3 separate regions of the Homo sapiens genome follow, and all the other regions are linked to region 1. The links come from fine-mapping of genetic effects on gene expression. A gene starts in region 1. Each other region holds a variant in brackets. All regions are shown on one strand. Distances are from middle to middle.

Region 1 (8,172 bases):
CTGGGCCTTGGTTTGAGCCCCAGCCTGTGCAGTGAGTGTGGAATGCTGGTGTCCACTGGTGGTTTCTGGCCTGAATTCCAAGCTCCAGGCACGTTCTGTGCCTGAGCAGCTGAGGCTGAGCTCAAAGGGTGTCTGGCCACTTACAAGCCACTGGACACTCAGCAGAATGCCGGATTGGGCATCTGCAAACTCTCCCATGAGAGTGGACCCTCGGTGACCCTGAACAGGCTAATTTGCCTTGTGAGTCCTAGTTTCACTGTTTTCACCTCTAGGATGGGGATTAGACTAGCCCCCACCTCAGTGTTGGGAGGGCGCTCAGGAACTTGCAGCATGAATTTTAAATTATTTCTATTACTACTGTGTGTGAGTGGTTCTCCCTGGTGGGGCAGCAACACTCAGCTGAGAAGGTGGAGGTGTCCAGGCAAGTCCCAGATAGCGTCTGTGAACCCCACCCGGCCCTCCTGCAGATGGCGGTGGCCCTTTGAGGCCCAGACCAAGTGGCAGGACCGATAAGGCCTCCTATCCTGCCAAGGGCAGGCCCAGGCTGGGAGGAAGGGTCAGGGGTTTCAGTTTCCAAAAATCTACTTACCGTCAAAAAAGCAGGTCATGAAACAGCTATTTAAAGGTAAAATGAGGAGACTTGGAGGTGTGGGGTCTTAGCAGAGAAGAGCCTGAGGATGTCCCCTGTAGCAAATGGAGGTTGGCCCTGGTGCTTCATTGTCCAGGAGACCCTGGGAGAACTTAGAGCTGGGACTCACTCAGGGACCATCTGCTCTGAACCCTGTTACTGGTGGGGAAACTGAGGTCCAAAGCAAGGCCCACTGACCCTCAGGCCAGCGTGTGACAATGATGTCTCATTTCTGTCACAGCCAATGAGGTGCAAACATGGACATGAGGGTGGCGCTGGGATCCAGAGTGCTGCTTCGAGGGCAGGGACGCACCCAGGACCTCTGTGGGCTGGGGTCATGGTGAGCTCCCTGCACTTTCACCAGTTCGAGCTCTCATTATGACTGACGATAGTCAGAAGAATGAACAATGAGTGCCAGGGTTACTGGCAGGAGGCCAACCCTGAGAGGGTAACCGGGGGAACAGTGGGATCCTTTGAGCCCAGAGATGTCCAGTCTGGAGCCCCAAGGTTCTGCCCATTGGGGCAGCAGCACGATTAGGTCAGAAGAGCGAGACCTGAGTCACAGTCCTGCTCCATTCGCATGGTCGCTGTGAGGGTCCCTGTGAGGAGGCCTCCATTACCACCACCGGCCACTGCCCTGGGTTCCCCCACCCCCATCTGTCCCATCTCACCCCTCCAGCCTCAAGCCCTGCTCCTGCAGTCTCATTTCCATCCCAGAGGCACTCCTGGGAAGTGCGGGAGAACTCACAAACCTTTTGATTATACATAAAATCAAAACATGGACAACGGGGATAAAGCCTTGCAAAATGTGTAGCAGAGGTTATGTATTCCTCAGAAAGAACACAGCCAGACCATCCAAGAACAGACCACCTGTAAAGAAAACAAGAAAAGCAATTCTCTGCAAATAATTAAGTGATGCAGCTCTCCCTCTCAATCAAAGAAATGCAACATAGAACAAGACACCATTTTCCTTTCTGGGAATTTCAGGAAAAAAAAAAATGTTATGCAGGCCGGGCACGGTGGCTCACGCCTGTAATCCCAGCACTTTGAGAGGCCGAGGCGGGTGGATCAAGAGGTCAGGAGATCGAGACCATCCTGGCTAACGCGGTGAAACCCCGTCTCTACTAAAAATACAAAAAAATTAGCCGGACGTGGTGGCGGGCGCCTGTAGTCTCAGCTACTGGGGAGGCTGAGGCAGGAGAATGGTGTGAACCTGGGAGGTGGAGCTTGCAGTGAGCTGAGATCGTGCCACTGCACTCCAGCCTGGGCGACAGAGCAAGACTCCATCTCAAAAAAAAAAAAAAAATTAGCCTGGTGTGGTGGCGGGCACCTGTAGTCCCAGCTACTTGGGAGGCTGAGGCAGGAGAATGATGTGAACCTGGTAGGTGGAGCTTGCAGTGAACTGAGATTGTGCCACTGCCCTCCAGCCTGGGTGATAGAGCGAGACTCTGTCTCAAAAAAAAAAAAAAAATGTTATGCAGCCCTGTGCAAGAAAACGCACCTGTTGGTACTGTTGAGCCATTTCAAATGCACGTACCCTTCACCCTGGTGAGGCCAATCCACAAATTTGTTCTGCAAAATACACATTAGTGTCAGTGTTGGTGCAAGAGGGTTACTTGCAACAGTGAAAATGCTCATCCCTCAGTCAAGTGGTTAGGTTCTGATGCATTTGATGTGCTTGGGAAAGTTCTGGAAGCAGCCAAAGAAGCTCATTACCTTTAGTTACCTCCTGGGGAAGCCTGGGATAGGGTAGGTGGGGTGATTTTTTAAAAAACAACTTCATTGAGATATAATTTACCATACCATACCAATTTGCATACCATAAAGCTTATCCACTTCAAGTGTACACTTCCATATCTTTTTTTTGTTTTTGAGATGGAGTCTCGCTCTGTCGCCCAGGCTGGAGTGCAATGGTGCGATCTTGGCTCACTGCAAGCTCCGCCTCCCGGGTTCACACCATTCTCCTGCCTCAGCCTCCTGAGTATCTGGGACTACAGGCGCCCGCACCATGTCCAGCTAATTTTTTGTATTTTTAGTAGACACGGGGTTTCACTGTCTTAGCCAGGATGGTCTCGATCTCCTGACCTCGCGATCCGCCTGCCTTGGCCTCCCAAAGCGCTGGGATTACAGGCATGAGCCACTGCGCCCGGCACTTCCATGTCTTTTAGTGTATTCGCGTTCTCAGAGCTGTCCAACCATTACCACAGTCAACGTTAGAACATTTTCATCACTCCCCTTCAAAAAACCCATGAATCGCTCCATATTTCCCCTGACCCCCTGGAAGCCCTAGGCAGCCACTAATCATTCTGTCTCTATGGATTTGCCTATTCTGGGCATCTTATATAAATGGAATCATATATTAGTGTGTCTTCAAGATGGATTCATGTGCCGTACTTCATTCCTTTTTATGGCTGAATAGTATTCCCTTAAACAAACTATACCATATTCACCCATTCATCAATTGATATACCCTAGGATTGCTTCCACTTTGGGCTATTATGAATAATATTACTAAGAACACACATGTTTTTGTGTGGACATATGCTTTCATTTCTCTTGGCTATATATCTAAAAGGGGGATTTGCCGAGTGTTGTGTTAACTCTAACCTTTCAGGAACTGCCAGCCTGTTTTCCATAGCGAGTGTAGCCTCTTACATTCCCACCAGCAGGAGAGAGATTCCCGTTTCTCCACACCCCTGCTGACGCTTGTCTTTTTGATTACAGCCATCGTAGGAGGTGTGATGTGGCATCTATTTGTAGTTTTGATTTGCATCTCCCTAATGCCTAATAATGTTGAGCATTTTTAATTTCTGTTTTGCCCAGGCTGGTCTGGAGTTCCTGGCCTCTCAGCGCTGGGGTCACAGGCGTAAGCCTCTACCAGTTGAGCTGAGCATCTTCTGGTGCTTATTGGCCATTTGCATAATGCACTGGAAAAATATTCATATCCTTTGTGCATTTTTCAATTGTCTTTTTATTGTTGAGTTGTAAGTTTCCTCCATTCTAGATACAATTCCCTTATCAGATATGTAACTTACAAATATTTTCTCCCGTTCTGTGGGTGGACTTTTAATTTTCTTGATGGTGTCCTTTAAAGCACCGAAGTTTTTGTTTTGTTTTGAGATGGAGTCTCGCTCTGTCGCCAGGCCAGAGTTCAGTGGCACGATCTCGGCTCACTGCAACCTCCGCCTCCCGGCTTCAAGCGATTCTCCTGCCTCAGCCTCCCGAGTAGCTGGGATTAGAAGCAGGCGCCGCCAAACCCAGCTAATTTTTGTATTTTTAGTAGAGAGACGGGGTTTTACCATGTTGGCCAGGATGGTCTAGATCTCCTGATCTCATGATCTGCCCACCTCGGCCTCCCAAAGTGCTGGGATTTCAGGCGTGAGCCACCGCGCCCGGCCGCAGTAAAGTTTTTAATCTGATGAAGTTTAATTTATTCTTCTGTAGTCGCTCCTGCCTTTAGTGTCACTGCCTCGCCCAAGGTCTCAAAGATCTCCTGTCGGCTTCCAAGTGTTTTTTTTTTTTTTTTTTTTTTTTGAGACGGAGTCTCGCTCTGTCGCCTAGGCTGTAGTGCAGTGGCGCAATCTCGGCTCACCGCAAGCTCCGCCTCCCGGGTTCAAGCGATTTTCCTGTCTCAGCCTCCCGAGTAGCTGGGATTACAGGCGCCCGCCACCACGCCCGGCTAATTTTTTTTTTTTTTTTTGTAGAGACGGGGTTTCACCATGTTGGCCAGGATGGTCTCGAACTCCTGACCTCGTGATTCACCCGCCTCGGCCTCCCAAAGTGCTGGGATTACAGGCGTGAGCCACCGCGCCCGGCCTTTTTTTTTTCTTTTTTCTTTCTTTCTTTCTTTTTTTTTTTTTTGATACGGGGTCTCGTCGCTCTGTCGCCCAGGGTGGAGTGCAATGGCGTGATCTTGGCTCAATGCAACCTCCGCCTCCCGGGTTCAAGCGATTCTCCTCTAGGATTACGGGCGCCTGCCACCACGCCCGGATAATTTCTTCTAATTTTTAGTAGAGATGGGGTTTCACTATGTTAGCTAGGATGGTCTCGATCTCCTGACCTCGTGATCCGCCCGCCTCGGCCTCCCAAAATGCTGGGATTACAGGCGTGAGCCACCGCGCCCCGCCCAAGTGTTATTTGTAAAACGAAGAAACCAACATCGAGAGGGACGCTGACTCGACCCCGCGCCTTTCCCATCCGCACCAGCAAGAGGGGCCCCTGTGCCCCAAACGCGAACCGTACGGCTCCAGACAGCACCGCGGAACTCGGTGGCTTCCAGAAGGCCCCGCGCCTGCGCATTCCGCTGCCTGCGCCTGCGCCTGCGCCTGCGCCGTTCTCCCGGCCGCCGCCTTAGCACCTCCTCCGGACGGTGTCGCCGAAGTCTCGCGAGCCCGGAGCGTGGCACGTGGGTTGGTAACTGTGGCGCTGCTCCGCGTCCACCACCACCCCTGTCCTCCTCAGGCCCCCTCCGCCTCCACCCCTGCCCTCCTCAGGCCCCCTCCGCCTCCACCCCTGCCCTACTCAGGCCCCCTCCGCCTCCACCCCTGCCCTCCTCAGGCCCCCTCCGCCTCCACCCCTGCCCTCCTCAGGCCCCCTCCGCCTCCACCCCTGCCCTCCTCAGGCCCCCTCCGCCTCCACCCCTGCCCTCCTCAGGCCCCCTGCGTCCCCGCCTCGTCCTCCTCAGGCCCCCTCCGCCTCCGGCTCCGTCCTCCTCAGGCCCCCTCCGCCTCCGGCTCCGTCCTCCTCTGGCCCCCTCCGCCCCCGGCCCCGGCCCCACGGCGGGATGCGGGACAACACCAGCCCCATCAGCGTGATTCTGGTGAGCTCGGGGAGCAGGGGCAATAAGCTGCTGTTCAGGTACCCCTTCCAGAGAAGCCAGGAGCACCCGGCGTCCCAGACAAGTAAGTGAGCGCTGGGCGGGGGCCTGGCGCTCGCGGGGGCCGCCTCATTCCGGGGTCGCCTCATTCCAGGGCCGCCTCGCGGAGCTTAGCTTTTGCTGGGCATTCGAGATCTGCTCGTTGTAGAGTATTTGAAAAGTAGAAAAAGGAAAAAAAAAATTAAAATCATGCATTGTTCACCACACCAAAGCAACTACTGCTGACATTTCATCAGTCTCCAGCCTTTAAAAAATAAAGTAAAATAAAATAAAATGAGTTTGGGATGTATTCATCATGAGAAAATACAAAATTACACGAACAAGGCCGGTGGCGGTAATCCCAGCACTTTGGGAGGCCGAGGCGGGTGGATCACCTGAGGTCAGGAGTTCGAGACCAGCCTGGCCAACATGGTTGAAACTCTGTCTCTACTGAAAAAATAAAAATAAAAAAAAACAAATTAGCCGAGCGTGGTGGTGCGTGCCCATAATCCTAGCTACTTGGGAGGCTGAGGCAGGAGAATTGCTTGAACCCGGGAGGCGGAGGTTTCAGTGAACCGAGATCGCGCCACTGGATTCCAGCCTGGGCAACAGAGCAAGACTCCGTCTCAAAAAAAAAAAAAAAAGTTACGTGAACATCTGAAGTTGTCTTTGCCACCCCCAGTTCTAGCAAGCACAGGGATCACCCCTGGCCGTGTTGGGAGTTGTCTGCCCTGTGCATAGATGCAGATCTATCCACAGGAAAAGGGAACGTCGCGTGAGGTTTTTCATCGCACGAATTGTTCTGTGGCGCCCTTTTCCCATAGTCGGCCTTGGAGCTCCGTCTGCCTTTGCAAGCAGGGATCAACCTCACCCTTGGCTGCAGGCTGCTGCCTTCCCCTGTGGACGGCATGTAGGTTACTTTTGATTTTTCATCATCATGAATGTTCAGTTTTTGTTTTTATTTTATTTATTTTTTGAGACGGAGTCTCACTCTGTCGCCCAGGCTGGAGTTGAGTGGCGTGATCTCGGCTCACTGCAGCCTCCACCTCCCGGGCTCAAGGGATTCTCCTGCCTCAGCCTCCCAAGTAGCTGGGGCTACAGGGCATGTGCACCACACCCTGCAATTTTTTTTTTTTTTTTTTTTTTTTTTAGTAGAGATGGGGTTTTGCCATGTTGGCCAGGCTGATCTCGAACTCCTGGCCTCAAATGATCTACCTGCCTCGGCCTCCCAAAGTACTGGGATTACAGGTGTGAGCCACCGCACCCGGACTGTTCAGTTTTTATTTTGTATTTTGTTTTAAAATTATTTTTAAACTTGTTGATATGGCAGAAAGTTTTAAAGATACAAAGGAGTTTAGATTATGAAAAGAAAGTTCTTTCCTACTATTGGCCCCCAGCCCTCAGTTTCCATCATAGGGGTAACTACTGTTCCCATTTTTCTGTGTCTTTCCAGGACCTTCTGTGTCAATACAGGCGTATGTATTTCTTTTTTCTTTTTTTTTTTTTTTGAGACGAGTCTTGCAGTCTTGCCAGGCTGGAGTGCAGTGGCGTGATCTCGGCTCACCGCAACCTCCGACCCCCTGTCAAGCAATTCTCCTGCCTCAGCCTCCCGAGTAGCTGGGACTACAGGCATGCGCCACCATGCCCAGCTAATTTTTTTTTTTATTTTTAGTAGAGATGGGGTTTCACCATGTTGGCCAGGCTGGTCTCCAACTCCTGACCTTGTGATCCGCCCGCCTTGGCCTCCCAAAGTGCTGGGATTACAGGCGTGAGCCACCGCGCCCAGCCTGCACTTGTGTTTTTTTTCTAAGCACAAGCAAAGTCACACCATACACACTGTTCTGCCCCTGTTTTCGTTTTCACTTCATGTCTGCATCTTTGATGTAGATCAGAACCTGTCGAGCACCCTTGTCCTTCTTACCGGCCACGGTGAATTCCATGAGATGAACATATTGTGATTTGTTTATCGTGTCCTTTTGGTTGATGGACGCAAAATTGTTTTCAATCTTTTGCTAATACGAAAAGTTCAAACGTTCTTTCCAGGTATTGTCATTTTGCAGAATTCTTGTAATATTAAATCCCCAAAGTAGCATGGTTGGGTCTAAGGGATAAAGAGCATATTTATTTTTAATAGGTTAGATTTTTCAATCTTTGTTAATCTGGTAGGTGAAAAATTATATCTGGTAGTAATTTTAATGTTTATTTGCCTTTTAATTGAGATAGAAAGCATATTTTCCTGTTTTTGGAGCCATTTGGATTTCCTTTTCAGTGAATGACTTATTTATAACCTTTGCCTAATGTTCTCTTGGGTTGTTTGATTTTTTTTCCTTATAGATTTGAAGGAGTTCTTTATATATTTAATGTAAAAATAGGTCTTGGGACAAAGCTATAGTCACCCTGTTTGCTTCTGTGTAGTTCTTGCCAGAGTTTTGATTTTTGTGGAGTTTTCAGTCTAATCTCTTGTGGTTTCTGAGTTTTGTTTTAAATGGAAAGGCGTTTTGCTCTCCAAAATTATTAACAACAACAATAAAAAACTCCCTTATTTTCCTCCAGACTGTTTATGTCTTTTTTTTTTTTTTTTTTTTTTGAGACAGAGTCTCACTCTGTTGCCCAGGCTGGAGTGCAATGGCCTGATCTTGGCTCACTGCAACCTCTGCTTCCCGGGTTCAAGCGATTCTCCTGTCCCAGC
Region 2 (8,159 bases), 45 kb before region 1:
CGCCACTGCACTCCAGCCTGGGTGACAAGAAAGCCCTATCTCAAAAAAAAAAAAAAAAAAAAAAAAAAAAAAAATGGTTTGACTCATGTCCCATGTGGGCTGATTATGTTTCCCACCTCTCAGTTCGTTCTTTTTTTTTTTTTTTTGAGACGGAATCTCACTCTGTCGCCCAGGCTGGAGTGCAGTGGCGTGATCTCAGCTCACCGCAACTTCCGCCTCCCAGGTTCACGCCATTCTCCTGCCTCAGCCTCCAGAGTAGCTGGGACTACAGGTGCCTGCCACCTTGCCTGGCTAATTTTTTGTATTTTTAGTAGAAACGGGGTTTCACCTTGTTAGCCAGGATGGTCTCGATCTCCTGACCTCGGGATCTGCCCGCCTCGGCCTCCCAAAGTGCTAGGATTACAGGCGTGAGCCACCGCTCCTGGCCAACACCTTTCAGTTCTTTCTAACATACCTGCTGTACATCAGGCAGGTACTTTAAGACCAAAGTAAAGGGGGACGCGGTGGCTCACGCTTGTAATCCCAGCACTTTGGGAGGCAGATAACCTGAGGTCAGGAGTTCGAGACCAGCCTGGCCAACATGGTGAAACCCTGTCTCTACCAATATACAAAAATTAGCTGGGTGTGGTGGCGGACACCTGTAATCACAGCTACTTGGGAGGCTGAGACAGGAGAATCGTTTGAACCCGGGAGCCAGAGGTTGCAGTGAACCGAGATTGCATCCAGCCTGGACGACAGCAAGACTCTGTCTCAAAAAACCCCCCAAAAACCCAAAATGAAGCCCTTCTGAAAAGGATAACTGCTAACTAATGTGTAGATGATGGGAGCTCCTTCCCTTTTTCACTTCGTGGGAGATTTTTTGGAGGGAATTCCTGAGGTTCACATTGTTAACACATAGCCATCCTCATCCGCTCTGTTTCTGCAGGGGTACACATGCCACCCTTGAGCTGGCTGGCTCAGTGGGCGCACACGGGCGCTGTGGTCTGGGTCTTTCTGCCACCGGTATCACAGTGTAGCTGGTGGCCTTGCTCTGGGCTCTCCTGCCACAGGCTGTCCCCTCCAGGAGGACAGATGGGTAGGTGGGCTGCTCTGCCAGCCCGTGACACAGGTCTAGCCCAGCCAACTGTCTCCAAGGAAAGGAGGGTGGAAGGGGCCGCCCTGTACAGGAGTCACTTGGGATTGATGCTGTGCTTTGCAGGCATCACCCATGTCGATATTCCCTGCGTGTTGCTGTTCCTCCCGTGTTGGTATTCCCCCCGTGTCGCTGTTCCCCCCGTGTCGCTGTTCCCCCCGTGTCGCTGTTCCCCCCGTGTCGCTGTTCCCCCCGTGTCGCTGTTCCCCCCGTGTCGCTGTTCCCCCCGTGTCGCTGTTCCCCCCGTGTCGCTGTTCCCCCCGTGTCGCTGTTCCCCCCGTGTCGCTGTTCCCCCCGTGTCGCTGTTCCCCCCGTGTCGCTGTTCCCCCCGTGTCGCTGTTCCCCCCGTGTCGCTGTTCCCCCCGTGTCGCTGTTCCCCCCGTGTCGCTGTTCCCCCCGTGTCGCTGTTCCCCCCGTGTCGCTGTTCCCCCCGTGTCGCTGTTCCCCCCGTGTCGCTGTTCCCCCCGTGTCGCTGTTCCCCCCGTGTCGCTGTTCCCCCCGTGTCGCTGTTCCCCCCGTGTCGCTGTTCCCCCCGTGTCGCTGTTCCCCCCGTGTCGCTGTTCCCCCCGTGTCGCTGTTCCCCCCGTGTCGCTGTTCCCCCCGTGTCGCTGTTCCCCCCGTGTCGCTGTTCCCCCCGTGTCGCTGTTCCCCCCGTGTCGCTGTTCCCCCCGTGTCGCTGTTCCCCCCGTGTCGCTGTTCCCCCCGTGTCGCTGTTCCCCCCGTGTCGCTGTTCCCCCCGTGTCGCTGTTCCCCCCGTGTCGCTGTTCCCCCCGTGTCGCTGTTCCCCCCGTGTCGCTGTTCCCCCCGTGTCGCTGTTCCCCCCGTGTCGCTGTTCCCCCCGTGTCGCTGTTCCCCCCGTGTCGCTGTTCCCCCCGTGTCGCTGTTCCCCCCGTGTCGCTGTTCCCCCCGTGTCGCTGTTCCCCCCGTGTCGCTGTTCCCCCCGTGTCGCTGTTCCCCCCGTGTCGCTGTTCCCCCCGTGTCGCTGTTCCCCCCGTGTCGCTGTTCCCCCCGTGTCGCTGTTCCCCCCGTGTCGCTGTTCCCCCCGTGTCGCTGTTCCCCCCGTGTCGCTGTTCCCCCCGTGTCGCTGTTCCCCCCGTGTCGCTGTTCCCCCCGTGTCGCTGTTCCCCCCGTGTCGCTGTTCCCCCCGTGTCGCTGTTCCCCCCGTGTCGCTGTTCCCCCCGTGTCGCTGTTCCCCCCGTGTCGCTGTTCCCCCCGTGTCGCTGTTCCCCCCGTGTCGCTGTTCCCCCCGTGTCGCTGTTCCCCCCGTGTCGCTGTTCCCCCCGTGTCGCTGTTCCCCCCGTGTCGCTGTTCCCTCCGTGTCCGTATTCCTCCCGTGTCCGTATTCCTTACCTGCACCTTTTCCTGCAGGTGGGACTCAGGGTACTTGTTCAGCACATGTGCTTTCCTCTTCGTCTTCTAGGAGGGAGTGGTTGGGTCTGGGCTCCCTGTTCCCAAGCCCACGTTGTGTTCATGGCTGTGGCTGCCTGGGTGATGAGTGTGAGTTTGCACCTGGGTTTCCCTGGGCCTTAAGCAGACAGCGTCACCCTCAGAGCCATCACCACTGTGAATCATTTGGATCTTTTTCCATCTGGGCATAAAATTGTATGTGTAGACAAATAGTTGTTTTTTGCTTTTTTGGGTGGGGGGGGTCAGGGTGTGGGGTTTACAGAAAAGGTGCTGTGCCCCTGGCCATCCTGTCCCCCGTGTCTGCTGATTACAGCTGAAGGACAGGTCCTCCTGGGATGCAGCATCAGTGTCCTCGGCCGCCCCTGGTAGCCTCCGGGGCACCATCCGTGCAGGGAGAGGCGCTCCTGCCTCTCTACCGTGCAGGGACAGTCGGGTGGGCTTTTGGTACACCTGCCAGGTGGTGCT[G/A]ACCAAACTGAGCTTCATGCCCCCGGTGCAGTTTCGCTGATAGCACCCACAACAGCTCTTCCTTTCTCCCTCCTCCCTCCCTCCTCCCAAATAACCCACACCAGGTTCTGCTGTCAGAGTCTGCGATAGGAGTCCCATGTTTTCACTTTTTTCACCCAGTACAGCGAGTCCTTCCTTTCCACTGCAGTACCAGTAAATCTCGCCAAAGATGGCTACTCGGAGATATATGGGTCTGGAAGTGTATCCCTCCCATGTGAAGGGGTCTGTAGTGTCAGGTGGAACCGGCCCTTGTCTCCACCCACAGGGACCACCTTGGCCTGCAGCCCAGACTGCAGGAGAACAGAAGAGAAGGGGGCCTCTCCAGAACATTTGGCGATTAAAAAAAAACTTTTTTTTTTTTTTTTTGAGACGGAGTCTCGCTCTGTCTCCTAGGCTAGAGCGCGGTGATGCAGTCTCGGCTCACTGCACCCTCTGCCTCAGCCTCCCGACTAGCTGGGAATACAGGGGCCCGCCACCATGCCCGGCTAATTGTTGTATTTTTAGTAGAGACAACGTTTCACCATCTTGGCCAGGCTGGTCTTGGACTCCTGACCTCGTGATCCACCCGCCTTGACCTCCCAAAGTGCTGGGATCACAGGCGTAAGCCACGGCACCTGGCCAAAATTATTTATTTATTTTTTTTGAGACGATGCTTGCTTTGTCACCCATGCTGGAGTGCAGTGTTGTAGTCATGGCTTACTGCAGCCTTGAACTCCTGGACTTAAGTGATCCTCCTGCCCCAGCCTCCAAGTAACTGGGACATAGGTGTGCACTACCACACTTGGCTAATTTTTTATGTTTTTGTGGAGACAGGTCTCACTATGTTGCTCAGGATATTCTTGGGAACTCCTGGGCTCAAGCAGTCTTCCCACCTCAGCCTCTCAAAGCACTAGGATTACAGGTGTGTCACCACAGCTGGCAGTGATTTTTTTAAAGGTAAATGGCTCTGTTTGGTGGGTGCTGTCGGCGCCAAACTAGCTGGATGGGCTGTGCCTTGTACCACCTTTGCCTCCTGCACAGGGTTACCTTGGGCTTGGGGAGCGCATGGGCCTTGACCGAAGCCCTGAGTGGGTTAAGGGTAGTCCTGGGGGGAGGAGAGGAGGATGCGGAGGCCGTTTCCTACCCCAGTGTGCAGCCGTCATGGGACAGGCAGGTGCTGGAGCAGGCCGAGGACCCCTATCTGGGGTGGCATCCTTTGGGGGAGGGGTGGCAGCCTGGAGCCAGAACCACGTTGGCCAGGATGGAACTTTTTTTTTTTTTTTTTTGAGACGGAGTCTCGCTTTTGTCACCCAGGCTAGAATGCAGTGGCGCAAACTCGGCTCACTGCAAGCTCCGCCTCCCTGGTTCACGCCATTCTCCTGCCTCAGCCTCCCGAATAGCTGGGACTACAGGCGCCCGCTATCACGCCCGGCCAATTTTTTGTGTGTTTTTTTTAGTAGAGACGGGGTTGCACTGTGTTAGCCAGGATGGTCTCAATCTCGTGACCTTATGATTTGCCCGCCTCGGCCTCCCAAAGTGCTGGGATTATAGGCGTGAGCCACCGCGCCCAGCCAGGATGGAACATTTTTTATTATAGTAAAGTGCACACAAAACGTGCCGTTATAACAGTTTTTCAGTGTACAGTTCAGTGGCACGACGTGTATCTACATTGTTGTGCAGCCTTCACCACCACCTGTGTAGGAGTGGCTTTGAAAAGGCAGAGTATGGCCAGGCGCGGTGGCTTACATCTGCAATCCCAGCACTTTGGGAGGCCAAGGCAGGTGGATCACAAGGTTAAGAAATTGAGACCATCCTGGCCAACATGGTGAAACCCCGTCTCTACTAAAAATATAAAAATGAGCCAGGCGTGGCAGGCACCTGTAATCCCAGCTACTCAGGAGGCTGAGGCAGGAGATTCGCTTGAACCCGGGAGGTGGAGATTGCAGCGAGTTGAGATTGCACCACTGCACTCCAGCCTGGGTGACAGAGCAAGACTCCATCTCAAAAAAAAAAAAAAAAAAAAAAGGCAGAGTGCAAATTCCCCTGGACTTGAGTGGGCATGAGTCTCCCCAACAGTGTGGAGGGCCCACAGCTGCTCCCCCTGCTCCCTTGGATCTGCACCTCTGGGTAGGTTCTGTACCAAGTGGGCTGAGCCCTTGAGCCAGGGCCAGCTCCCTCCAACCTCCACATCTCCAGGGAGGATGCGGTCTGGCTCTTCCACCTTCAGTGATGCTCCAGATGTAATCCCAGGAGGGTGTCCACACCTAGTTACAGGAGTCTGAGAGCCTGGTGCTTCCTCAGGGCCCCTGAGCCTCCTGGGCTCCAAGTGCTTGCTCCTGTGCGCGAAGTTGCAGCAGCCGCAGGTCCTGTGCTCTGGGAGCACACAGGATGATTGAGGTGAGACTGACTCGAGCTACCCCAAGGATAGAAACTAGAACGTGGATCCAAGAGGGGGCTCACGGGTGGGCTAGGGGCCAGATTTTTTCTTTTCTTTTTTTTTTTTTTTGTTTGAGACAGTCTCGCTCTGTCGCAAAGCTGGAGTGCAGTGGTGCAATCTCAGCTCACTCCAACCTCCGACTCTGGTTCAAGTGATTCTCCTGTCTCAGCCTCCCGAGTAGCTGGGAGTACAGGCATGCACCACCACACCCAGTTAGTTTTTATATTTTTAGTAGAAACGGGGTTTCACCATGTTGGCCAGGCTGGTCTTAAACTCCTGACCTCAGGTGATCTACCGGCCTCTGCTTCCCAAAGTGCTGGGATTACAGGCGTGAGCCACCATGCCCCGCCCGGAGATCTAATGTAGTAGAGATAATAACCTTTATCTGCCACATGTAGCAAATATTTTCTCTGGCTCTTCCCCCCGCCCCCTCCTCTTTTTTTTTTTTTTGAGACGGAGTCTCGCTCTGTCGCTCAGGCTGGAGTGCAATGGTGTGATCTCGGCTCACCGCAACCTCCGCCTCCCGGGTTCAAGCCATCCTCCTGCCTCAGCCTCCTGAAGTTGGGATTACAGGCGCCCGCACCACACCCAGCTAATTTTTATTTTTATTTTTATTTTTTCTGAGACGGAGTCTCACTCTGTCGCCCAGGCTGGAGTGCAGTGGCGCAATCTTGGCTCACTGCAGGCTCCGCCTCCGGGGTTCACGCCATTCTCCTGCCGCAGCCTCCCGAGTAGCTGGGAATGCAGGCGCCCGCCACCACCCCCAGCTATTTTTTTGTATTTTTAGTAGAGACGGGGTTTCACAGTGTTAGCCAGGATGGTCTCGATCTCCTGACCTCGTGATCCGCCCGCCTCGGCCTCCCGGAGTGCTGGGATTACAGGCGTGAGCCACCGCGCCCGGCCTGTCCACTTTTCCTCAGTGTCACCTTGAGAATACCATTTCTGAGGAAAAGCATCTCTACATGTGCCTAGAAGACTGGAACAGCTACGCATCAAATGTTAGGGGTGTGGATGAGGCCTGCCTCTACCCCGTGTGTGTGTGTGTGTGTGTGTGGCATGTCTGTGTTACACATGTGCTCTTGGATATGACAGCCATGTCCTGTTCTTGTTTACACATGACACAGTTTGCCGCGTGTCAAGCGGCAGCTGAAGGATGTGCTGCACCCATTCCTGGACCTGGGATACACAGGAAGGTGCAGCAAGCCTTGTTTTCGGAAGTTCTACAATGACCATGATTGGTTTTATGTGGACAAATATAAAAAAGCTTCACTCTCCGTAGTGATGTCGGGTGACGGCAGGGGTCTGGGTCGGTTCCTGGTCCACCTCGCCAGCTACGTGGCTAGGTGCTGGGGCTGGTCCCACCTCCTTCACCACAACCCCCCGGCACCCCAGGTCCCCGATTCCAGGCCACAGCCGCGGCGGCTGGGTGCTGCGCAGGTACCGGCTCGCGCCGGGAGGGGGCGCTGTTCCCTAACCTGCTCCGAGTCAGCCCCGGGCCCTTAACGCCGCCCGCGTGCGTTCACGCTGCAGGTGCGGAGTTCTCGCGGTGGGTCCGGGCCGCGTGCTCGGCGCAGAGTGGGGAGGGCGAAGCCAGCCGCCCTCGGGATGGGCAGAGTCGGCCGTCCTCGCAGCCCGCCGCCCGGGGCGTCCCGCGGCCCTCACCTACCACCCCATTCGGGAGGGTCAGGCTGCACGCAGTTCGGTGCCCCCATGGCCGAGGCCCCAAACCTGCTGGAGGTGGAAAGAGGCGCGCCTGGATCTGGGCACTGGGGGTGTGCCCCAGGCCCTCGCCTTTCCTTGGGGAGGGGCGGCGCCTTCCTCTCGCGTCCTGACCTCGAGAGAGCACGGCAAGAAGGCTGCTCCTGGGAGAGGCTTTACTCAAACACGGGGAAGGTCGCCTGGGGATCCCGCGGCCACCCACCCACAGTTCAGCGGTACTCGGAAACCAGCGCCGAGATAACGTGGCTCAGGAACTTGTCCAGCGACGCCTGCAGCGCGGGGCTGAAGTCTCCGGGGTAGTGCCGGGCGAGGGTTACCAGCAGGCAGTGGCCCAGGAGCTGCGGCGAGCGCTCAAGGCTCACTCGCCTGCACCCGCCCCGCACGCCCCCCGCACCCACCCCGCCGGGGCCCTCCCGGGGACAGGGGCCCAGCACGGCAGCCGCTCACCTGGAAGCTGGCCGGGTCCACTCGCAGCTGGCACGCGTGCAGGTGGCTCAGCGCGGACAGCGCGTGGGGTAGGTCGTCCAGGCGCTCCACGGCGAGGCTCAGCGCGTCCGCCACCTTCTGGCCGTGGGCTCTGACTTGTGAGGAGCCGGGGCTCAGGTCCAGGTGGGAGAAGTAGGTCTTCGTGGCGGGGAAAGCCAGGAAGGTCCTGCGAGAGGAACGTGGGTGAGGCGCGTCCGGGGGGCTTGGGGAGGGAGGGCCCCTGGGGGCGGGGGCGCCCAGCCTGCCGCACCTTTCCAGGGCCTCTGTCGTGTAGACGCCGACGTTGCTGCCCAGCTTCTTCCACAGGGCGCGCACCAGCGCCCGGTCCTCCGCGGACAGCGCCATCCCCGCGCTGGAACCCGCCGCGCCCTGCGACCCCGCTGCGCCTGCGCGGACCGGCCAGGGGTCCCGCGGCCTCCAGGGGGCGCCGCGCCGCAGCTTCGCCGCCCGGGGGTCCAGGGCCTCGTCGGAGATCCCGGGACCGCGCGCGCTCAA
Region 3 (8,172 bases), 36 kb after region 1:
TTACTACCCTCTGGCTTTGAATTGCCTGGTATCCAGTCTCTTCCTTGGACATTGTTCCCTTATTCTGAGTGTATGCCTCAACTCGGATTAGATTACAAACAAAAATCAGGCTAACTTGGAATTAAAATAAAAACCAAGCTGGTGCGGTGGTGTGCTCCTGTAGTCCCATCTCACAGGCGAGGCCAAGGTTGGGGGATCACTTGAGCCCAGGAGTTCGAGCTTGTAGTGCTCTATGCTGGTGTCTGAGTAGCCACTGTACTCCAGCCCCAGCAACATGGTGAGACCCTGTCTCTTAAAAATTTGTTTAAATAAAAACCAAACCATTGACTTTATATTTCTTTTTCTTCTTCTTTTTTTTTTTTTTTTTTGAGATGGAATATCCTTCTGTTGCCCAGGCTGGAGTGCATTCTTCTGCCTCAGCCTCCCGAGTAGCTGGGACTACAGGTGCACATCACCATGCCTGGCTAATTTTTGTATTTTTAGTAGAGATGGGGTTTCACCATATTGGCCAGGCTGGTCTCGAACTCCTGACCTTGTAGATCCGCCCGGCTCGGCCTCCCAAAATGCTGGGATGACAGGCGTGAGCACCGTGCCCGGCTCGTTGACTTTATATTTCTAAAGGAAGAATGGACTATGATTTCTTAGGTTTGAATCGTGCTGGAAAGTTGAAAGGAGACAAAACCTTGGACTGCCTGTTGTGTGATCTGCAGGCTGCGGAGGAGCTCAGAACTTGAGGCAACCCAGCGCCACCTAGTGGATATTAAAGGAGGACAGGAATCTGAGTTTTGCTGAAAAAGGCTCCTAAGCTGTTGTTCAGCATGTAGCATTCTTTCCTGACCTACGCATTCTGTTTGTTAGTGCCCAGGATCACATTTCCTCCATCCAAACTCCCACCCTAACAGTCTTGGGTCCTGGAGCTTGCCCCAGGGATGCTGGCAGCTATGTTTCTCTGGCAGGAGTCCAGGCAGTAGTACCCTCCCTGTACCCATCCTTGTCTGGCACTGGCATGGCTCTGCAGCCACCCAGGAGCCCCTCTGGGCTGTGGCCTCTCGTCTGTCCTCATCCCATCAGGTCCATGGTTGGCCTCAAGGGTCTGGTCTGCTGCTGCTCACTCTTCTGCACTGAGAGGAGGAGACTGAGTTTCCATTACTGATCAGGTGACCTAGGACAGAGCGCCTTTCTCCTGATGGTGACTGACTGCCAGATCTGGGGGAATCTCAGAACAGAACTGAAAGACCAGAAGCTGTGAGATTAATGAGGTTGGAGATTGGGGTGGGATTTTTCAAAGGAATTGTTCCTGGTTCTTTTTTTTTTTTTTTTTTTTTTTTTTTTTAATTTAAGGCAGGGTCTCACTCTATTGCCAGGCTGGAGCGCAATCTTGGCTCACTGCAACATCTGTCTCCCAGGCTCAGGTGATCCTTCCATCTCGGCCTCCCGAGTAGCTGGGACTATAGGCACCCGCCCCCACGCCTGAATAGTTTTTGTATTTTTTTGTGGAAATGGGATTTTGCCATGTTACCCTGGCTGATCTTGAATTCCTGGACTCAAGCAATCTACCCACCTTAGCCTCCCAAAGTGCTGGGATTATAGGCGTGAGCCACCATGCCCTGCCCCCAGTTGCTATTTTATTTATTTATTTATTTATTTGTTTGTTTGAGACGGAGTCTTGCTTCGTCACCCAGGCTGGAGTGCAATGGCACAATCTCAGTTCACTGCAACCTCCGTCTCCCGGGCTTAAGTGATTCTCCTGCCTCAGCCTCCTGAGCAGCTGGGATTACGGCGCCTGCCACCAGGCCTGGCTAATTTTTGTATTTTTAGTAGAGATGGAGTTTCACCATGTTGGCCAGCCTGGTCTTGAACTCCTGACCTCGTGATCTGCCAACCTCGACCTCCCAAAGTGCTAGGACTACAGGCGTGAGCCACCACGTCCGGTCCCCAGTTGCTATTTTAATTAAAGCTAGGGTTATGGTGTGGCTGAATAGCCTGGTGGCCCTGTCCTGCAGGACCTAACATCTGTGAATATAGGCTGGGAATGTGAATCGCTCAGGAGGCCACCCCAACACTTGTGCCATACCTAGCACTTGTGTCTCCCTGTGGATCCCAGTGGCCCTCAGTGACAGCATGTCACTCATTCATATGACCATTGAATTGTGTCTCCCAGGAGGGCAGGGATGTCTCTTCACTTTCTGCAACACAGCCCCTACACTCAGCCTGTGGAGGAGCACAGCTCATCCGCTAGGGGTCGACGGAATGTGTGGGTGGGAATAACAGCAGTGTAGATTCCATGGAGTGTGAAGAAGTGATTTGCTGAATGGTTCTCCGAGTTAACAGGACCTGTGGTGGGGAGTGATGTCCAGGGTCTGGCTGGGTAGGTGGTACTTGGTGCGGAGCCTTGCACTGCAAACTGTCGAGAGCAGGGTTGGTCCCATGGACCCTCTGTGAATATCCTGAGTTGTAGTACCCATTTCCATAAAAATGCACCTATATATAAACTTTCGTTTGAAATTTCAAGGTAGGCTGTTTGGAACCCACATAGATCTTTTGGGTTATGCAGCATCCCACTACTTATGGTAGGAAGCCAGGCCCATCCGTGGGACCAGAGGATGCAGAGGTTTGCAGGATAGCTTCACAGGTCCTGTCTAGTTCTAAGGTTAGGAATGGATGCTTTCTCAGATGCTAAAAGCTGAGGGGACTAGACTAAGCTTGTGCACATTTCTGTCTTGGAGATGAACGGCGAGAGTGTGTTTGAAGCCAGCCATTCCCTTTTGCATAGTCATTGTCAGGATGCAGGGCTTTGGCTGGGGCACCTATCTCCTGTCACAGACTGGGCTGGGCCCTCTTGGCTGGCCCAGAGCTGTGTGAGGGGCTGGATAAGTCTTGAGGAGGACAGTGTTTTCCTCCAGAGTGTTTTCAGACCAAACCATTAAACACCTTGCAAATAGAAGTGCAAGCTCGGCAGGAAACCTTTCAGGGCCCAAACCCTGCTTGTGCTAAGGGCTCTTGTCTTAAAGCTGCAGACTTAAAAACAGTGACAAACCTTTCTCTTTCCCCTTGTTAACAGACCTCAGTGCAGCTCCTGGCTTACCCTCTTACTGTGGGGGATTTACAGGCTGGAGGTTGGGCCGGCACCTTTCCAGAGCAGTCATCCCTCTGACATGTTCAGGGAATTTGCCCAGGTCTGCCATGGCCTTTGGGGCACTCCTGGTGGCAGCACTTGTCACCGCTCTAGGGAGCTGGGTTAGTTCATAAAGAAGCACCAGCCTCAGTGCAGAGTGCTCTGAGGGAGAAAGCAGCAGGTGGGTGAGCTGATGCTTGGGAAAATGGAGTAAAGTCCACGTGGAAGTTAGAGGAACCAACATGGCGTGTCTCTGCCAGAGGAGAGGGCCCCATGCCAGTGTACAAACCAGACCACATGACTGCGGCTCCAAGGACAGCTGACACGGTGAGGGCAGCAGAGATGACCAAGCTGGGAAGTCACTAGAAGAACCTTCATGTGACCCTCCTGCCCTCATTTCTCCATACCCATAGCTGGAACTTGTTCCTGGCTTTCCATGAGGTGTGTTCCAAGCCCCTGTTCCTTTCCCTATAACTCTCTCCAGTTTCTAATGCTCCATACAATTTGATTACAATTAGGTGTCTTTTTTTTTAAACGTTAATTTCAATTTTTTTTGAGACAGGGTCTTGCTCTGTCACCCAGGCTGGAGTGCAATGGCGCGATCTCGGCTCACTGCAACCTCCGCCTCCTGGGTTCAAGTGATTCTCCTGCCTCAGCCTACCAAGTAGCTGGGATTACAGGCACCTGCCACCACACCTGGCTAATTTTTTTTTTTTTTTTTGAGATGGAGTTTCACTTTTGTTGCCCAGGCTGGAGTGCAATGGCACGATCTCAGCTCAGTGCAACCTCCGCCTCCGCCTCTACCTCCCAGGTTCAAGTGATTTTCCTGCCTCAGCCTTCCAAGTAGCTGGGATTACAGGCATGCACCACCACGCCCAGCTAATTTTGTACTTTTAATAGAGACGGGGTTTCTCCCTGTTGGTCAGTCTGGTCTCAAACTTCTGACCTCAGGTGATCTGCCCATCTCAGCCTCCCAAAGTGCTGGGATTACAGGTGTGAGCCACGGCACCCGGCCTAATATTTGTATTTTTAGTAGAGACAGGGTTTCACCATGTTGGCCAGGCTGGTCTCGAACTCCTGACCTCAAGTGATCGGCCTGCCTCGGCCTCCCAGGTTTTGGGATTACAGGCGTGAGCCGCCACGCCCGGCCAATTATGTGTCTGTCTAGATGCCGCTGAGTGAAGCCCCCAGCGTGCAGAGCAGCCAAGTTATTTTCTTCCCTGCTGCACTCCAAGTACCTAAACTGGTGCTGGGAGCCACAGCACATGTCATAAGGCCTCACTGTGCTCCTAGATGGAGCAAAGACAGCTACATTTGAAACAATAGGAGCCTCCGTATTCTGATTCTGTGGTGTCCCAACAGCCACTTTGAGCTGCATCCTAAATAGGACAGAAACAGAAAGGCCTTGGGTGGGTGCGGTGGCTCACGCCTGTAATCCTAGCACTTTGAAAAGCCAAGGTGGGAGGATCGCTTGAGCCCAGGAGTTTGAGACCAGCCTAGGCAACATAGACCCTGTCTCTACAAAAAAAAAAAAAAAAAAAAAAAAAAAAATCACCCCAGGCGTGATGTTGCACGTCTGTAGTCCCAGTTACTTGGGAGGTTGTCTTGAGCCTGGGAGATCAAGGCTGCAGTGAGCGGAGATGGCGCCACTGCACTCCAGCCTGAGCAACAGTGAGACCTTGTCTCAGAAAAAAGAAAAAAAAAATAGACCTTTTATTTCCAGTGGCCCTCCTTTCTGACCCAGATGGTGACAGCACAGTGCATGGGGCCACCTCTCGCTTGCCCTTTCTTCCCTGTCGCATACGGATGCCAAGATCCTAACTATTGCTTACTCAAGTTGAGTAACCTGGATCCCCTGGACAAATCTCTCCTGGTGTGATCTTTAATTCCTTAGCGGCTGGGACATTTCTCAGGGTTTGATAC[G/A]AGTTTTTCACCCTGCAAAGACCCTGACCAAAGAGAGGTAAGGTTCTGGGAGCCTCTGTCTGCCCCGACATACTTGGTTAGCATGCAGTTCTGGAAGAAGCTGAGACTGCTGCCCTCCTCTGGGACCTTGGGGCCATGGTGTTCTCTGAGCACCCCGTATTGACGTGTCCTAAGAGACGTCCGAGGGGCCGTTTGTACCTTCTGGCCTGGGGCAGCCAGAAGTCTGGCCAAGTCTCCCGGACTTAGCCGGATGTGGGTGTGTTGGCCTGTCCCGCCAACTGGGAGCTGAGAATAGCAGAATAGGGTCAGGGGGTGATGGGAAAAGCACTAGTTGGCTGCTCTCCTGGGCAGTGGGGCAGTGAACAGAGGAAACATGATGCGGGGAGGTGCTGTAGAAATGGGCAGTTTGGAGAAGAACTTGTGTGTGTTTTGCTCCTATTTTAGAACTGGTGTCATTGTGAGGCTTCACAGGCTGCGTTCCCTGTGCAGGACACAAGGAAGGTGCCGGCCACTTTGAGTAGCCAGGCCTTGACAAGAGTAGGTGGAGATCCCCCCTGTTGCCTGGAGCCTCCGGGGATGCGGTGAAGGCCAGCTGCAGACAGCTTTGCTTGAGCAGTTGCATCTCCTCTGTGTCATAGAACAAGTGCTGTTGGCTCTTACTTAAGGCAAGGGCGCTTTGTGGTGAGCGGTGGAGTTGGGTGGCGCCCTGGCTTCTCCATCAGGGAGTTTTAGAAGCTCCTGGTGAAAACAACTCCTTCCTTGTTTTGTGTGGTTCCCCGAGGGGATGACGTGGGCTGCATCCCCACTGTGGAGCCTGTTCTTGGGGCAGGGCTTCCTAGGAAAGACAGTGCATGCAGGGAGGGCGGTGTGTTCCTTGGCTTCATTCAGGAAATGCAGCTCCGTGCCTATGTGCCTGACACGTTTTACAATGTGTAGAGAGCAGAGAATGAAACCCACAAGCCCCCCTCCTCAGGAGTGAGTTCTGGTTGGGGAGACAGCATTAGGCAGCGGGTCAGGGGTTGGAGTGTCAATGGGGCTGGGGTCAGGGGTGCTTCACTGAGAATGTGACACTTGAGTGGAGACCGATGGAGTAAAGGAGCCTTGGGGCGTCTGCAGAGAGTTTGTGGGCAAGGGCAAATGCCAGGGCCCTGAGCACAGCGGGACCTGAGTGACTGGGCACAGGGAGTGAGGCCACAGGAACGTGGGTGTTGCAGGCCCATGGCTGGGACTGCCCAGGTGGGAGTGTGGGGAGCGGTAGTCAGAGGGGCCAGTGCTCTGGGTGGCTTGGGCCTGGTGATGCTGAAAAGGCCTGGATTTTGGACATCCCTGCAGGTGGAGCAGATGGGATTTGCTGATGGTTTAAAGTGGACTGTGAAAGAAATAAGGAAACTGGGATGGTGTTGCTATGTTTGGCCTGAGCAAGCTTTGGGACCCGAAAGAACCAAGTTACCCTTACTGATAGAATGTGGAGTGAAAGGTTTTCCGTCGTAGTGAAGTGTTGGGGCTGGCTAGCACGGCTGGCTTGTGGTGACCACTTGGTATCCACATGCACTGCAACTGAGGTGCTGTGGGCATCTGCAGACTGCAGGGAGGTGGGCACTGTGTGCTTCTCACCACTGGAACACTCTGGGGGACTTGGCATTCCTTCCCTGCCCTCCTCGCCCTCTGAGACAGCCACTGTTCTGCCTGGACGTGCACCTGTGACGGGTCTTCATGAGGTGTGCAGGGCAGGCCCATTCACAGGGAGGATGTACTCTGGGTGTTGGGTGTCTGCCAGGGGTCTGGACGGGCAGGGGCCTGAGTTAGAGTGCCTCTAGTGCACTGAGTCCCCAGGACAGGGTACGGCTTCTCTCAAGCCCTGGCAGTCTGGTTGGACTACAGATTCCAGGGCTAGCCAGAAATATGTTTCTCTTTTTCTTTCTTCTTCTTCTTCCTTTTTTTTTTTTTTTTTTTTGAGACAGAGTCTTGCCTTGTTGCCCAGGCTGGAGTGCAGTGGCGTGATGTTAGCTCACTGCAACCTCCACCTCCTGGGTTCAAGTGATTCTCCTGCCTCAGCCTCCCGAGTAGCTGGGACTACAGGCGCCCGCCACCACACCTGGCTAATTTTTGTATTTTTAGTAGAGACGGGGTTTCACCGTGTTATTAGCCAGGCTGGTCTCGAACTGCTGACCTCGTGATCCGCCCACCTTGGCCTCCCAAAGTGCTGGGATTACAGGCATGAGCCACCGTGCCCGGCCCCCATATTTTCTTTTCTTAAACATAATGTGATCTTAAGAGATGCTCTCCTGCCCGGGTCTCCACCTGCAGTTTCCCCTAAGCAGCAGGGGAATCAGCACCATTGAGCAGGGTGTTTTCTGATCTGTGTGCATGGTTAGAAAGTTTATGTGAACGGGTAACAGCGCCCACTCTCTGCAGCCTGTGCACGTCGGGCGTAGTTCGGCTTCACATCAACAGCTGGCTGGAGGTGAGCTTCTGCCTGCCCCACAAGATCCACTATGCGGCCTCCAGTCTGATCCCCCCAGAGGCCATCGAACGGAGCCTGAAAGCCATCCGGTAAGTGCCCAGCCCCACGTGCTCACTCCCTGCCAGGGCCCTTCCCTTTAGCTTCTGCCTGAGATTTTACCACTTACTTTGTTCCAAAATTTCTCTTTTTCTTCTTCCCACTGCGGAAGCTTGCAGGTGGGGCTCTGCCGTTTATAGAAGTTAAAACACATAATTTTGTATCCAGTTGTGTCCAGAAATGACCAATCCCAGGTTTCTCCTGGGCCCTTCTGGCACCACCTTAGGCTTGGGCAGGGCAGCCTGGATGTGGGGCTGAGTGTCCTTGGGGAGGCCGGAGGGCTGGAGGGACTTCATCTTAATGGTGTTGCCCTACCCCAGTCTTTTGCATTTCAGTCAGCACTCATGGGATCTCAGTTATTTTCTTTTTCTTTTTTTTTTCTTTTTCTTTTTTTTTTTTTTTTTTGCGGGGGTGTGTGTGTGTGTGAGAGAGAGACAGAGTTTTGATCTTATCGCCCAGGCTGGATTTCAGTAGTGCGATCCCGGCTCACCACTACGTCCACCTCCCAAGTTCAAGTGATTCTCCTGCCTCAGGCTCCCGAGTAGTTGGGATTACAGGCGCCCACTGCCATGCC

The links.
Region 2: its variant is fine-mapped to the expression of NPRL3 in aorta (GTEx, PIP 0.95).
Region 3: its variant is fine-mapped to the expression of NPRL3 in whole blood (TOPMed, PIP above 0.99).

Annotation. Positions count from the first base shown.
Region 1 is chr16:135,507-143,678 of GRCh38, reverse strand. It overlaps NPRL3 (NPR3 like, GATOR1 complex subunit), which reads left to right and starts at 5,006. Exons shown (of 14, transcript NM_001077350.3): 1 at 5,006-5,037; 2 at 5,345-5,529. The coding sequence starts at 5,412. RefSeq lists a cis regulatory region at 206-724, an enhancer at 5,077-5,126 and a silencer at 5,347-5,576.
Region 2 is chr16:180,337-188,495 of GRCh38, reverse strand. HBQ1 (hemoglobin subunit theta 1) reads right to left here and starts at 8,037. Exons shown (of 3, transcript NM_005331.5): 1 at 7,915-8,037; 2 at 7,626-7,830; 3 at 7,317-7,516. The coding sequence starts at 8,009. The coding sequence ends at 7,388. RefSeq lists a silencer at 6,917-7,266 and an enhancer at 7,277-7,536. The variant G/A (reference allele first, on the strand shown) is at 3,005.
Region 3 is chr16:99,791-107,962 of GRCh38, reverse strand. NPRL3 (NPR3 like, GATOR1 complex subunit) reads left to right here. Exons shown (of 14, transcript NM_001077350.3): 8 at 7,454-7,591. Among named protein-coding and RNA genes, the nearest start is that of MPG, 26 kb to the right of the region's middle. RefSeq lists an enhancer at 1-1,207. The variant G/A (reference allele first, on the strand shown) is at 5,039.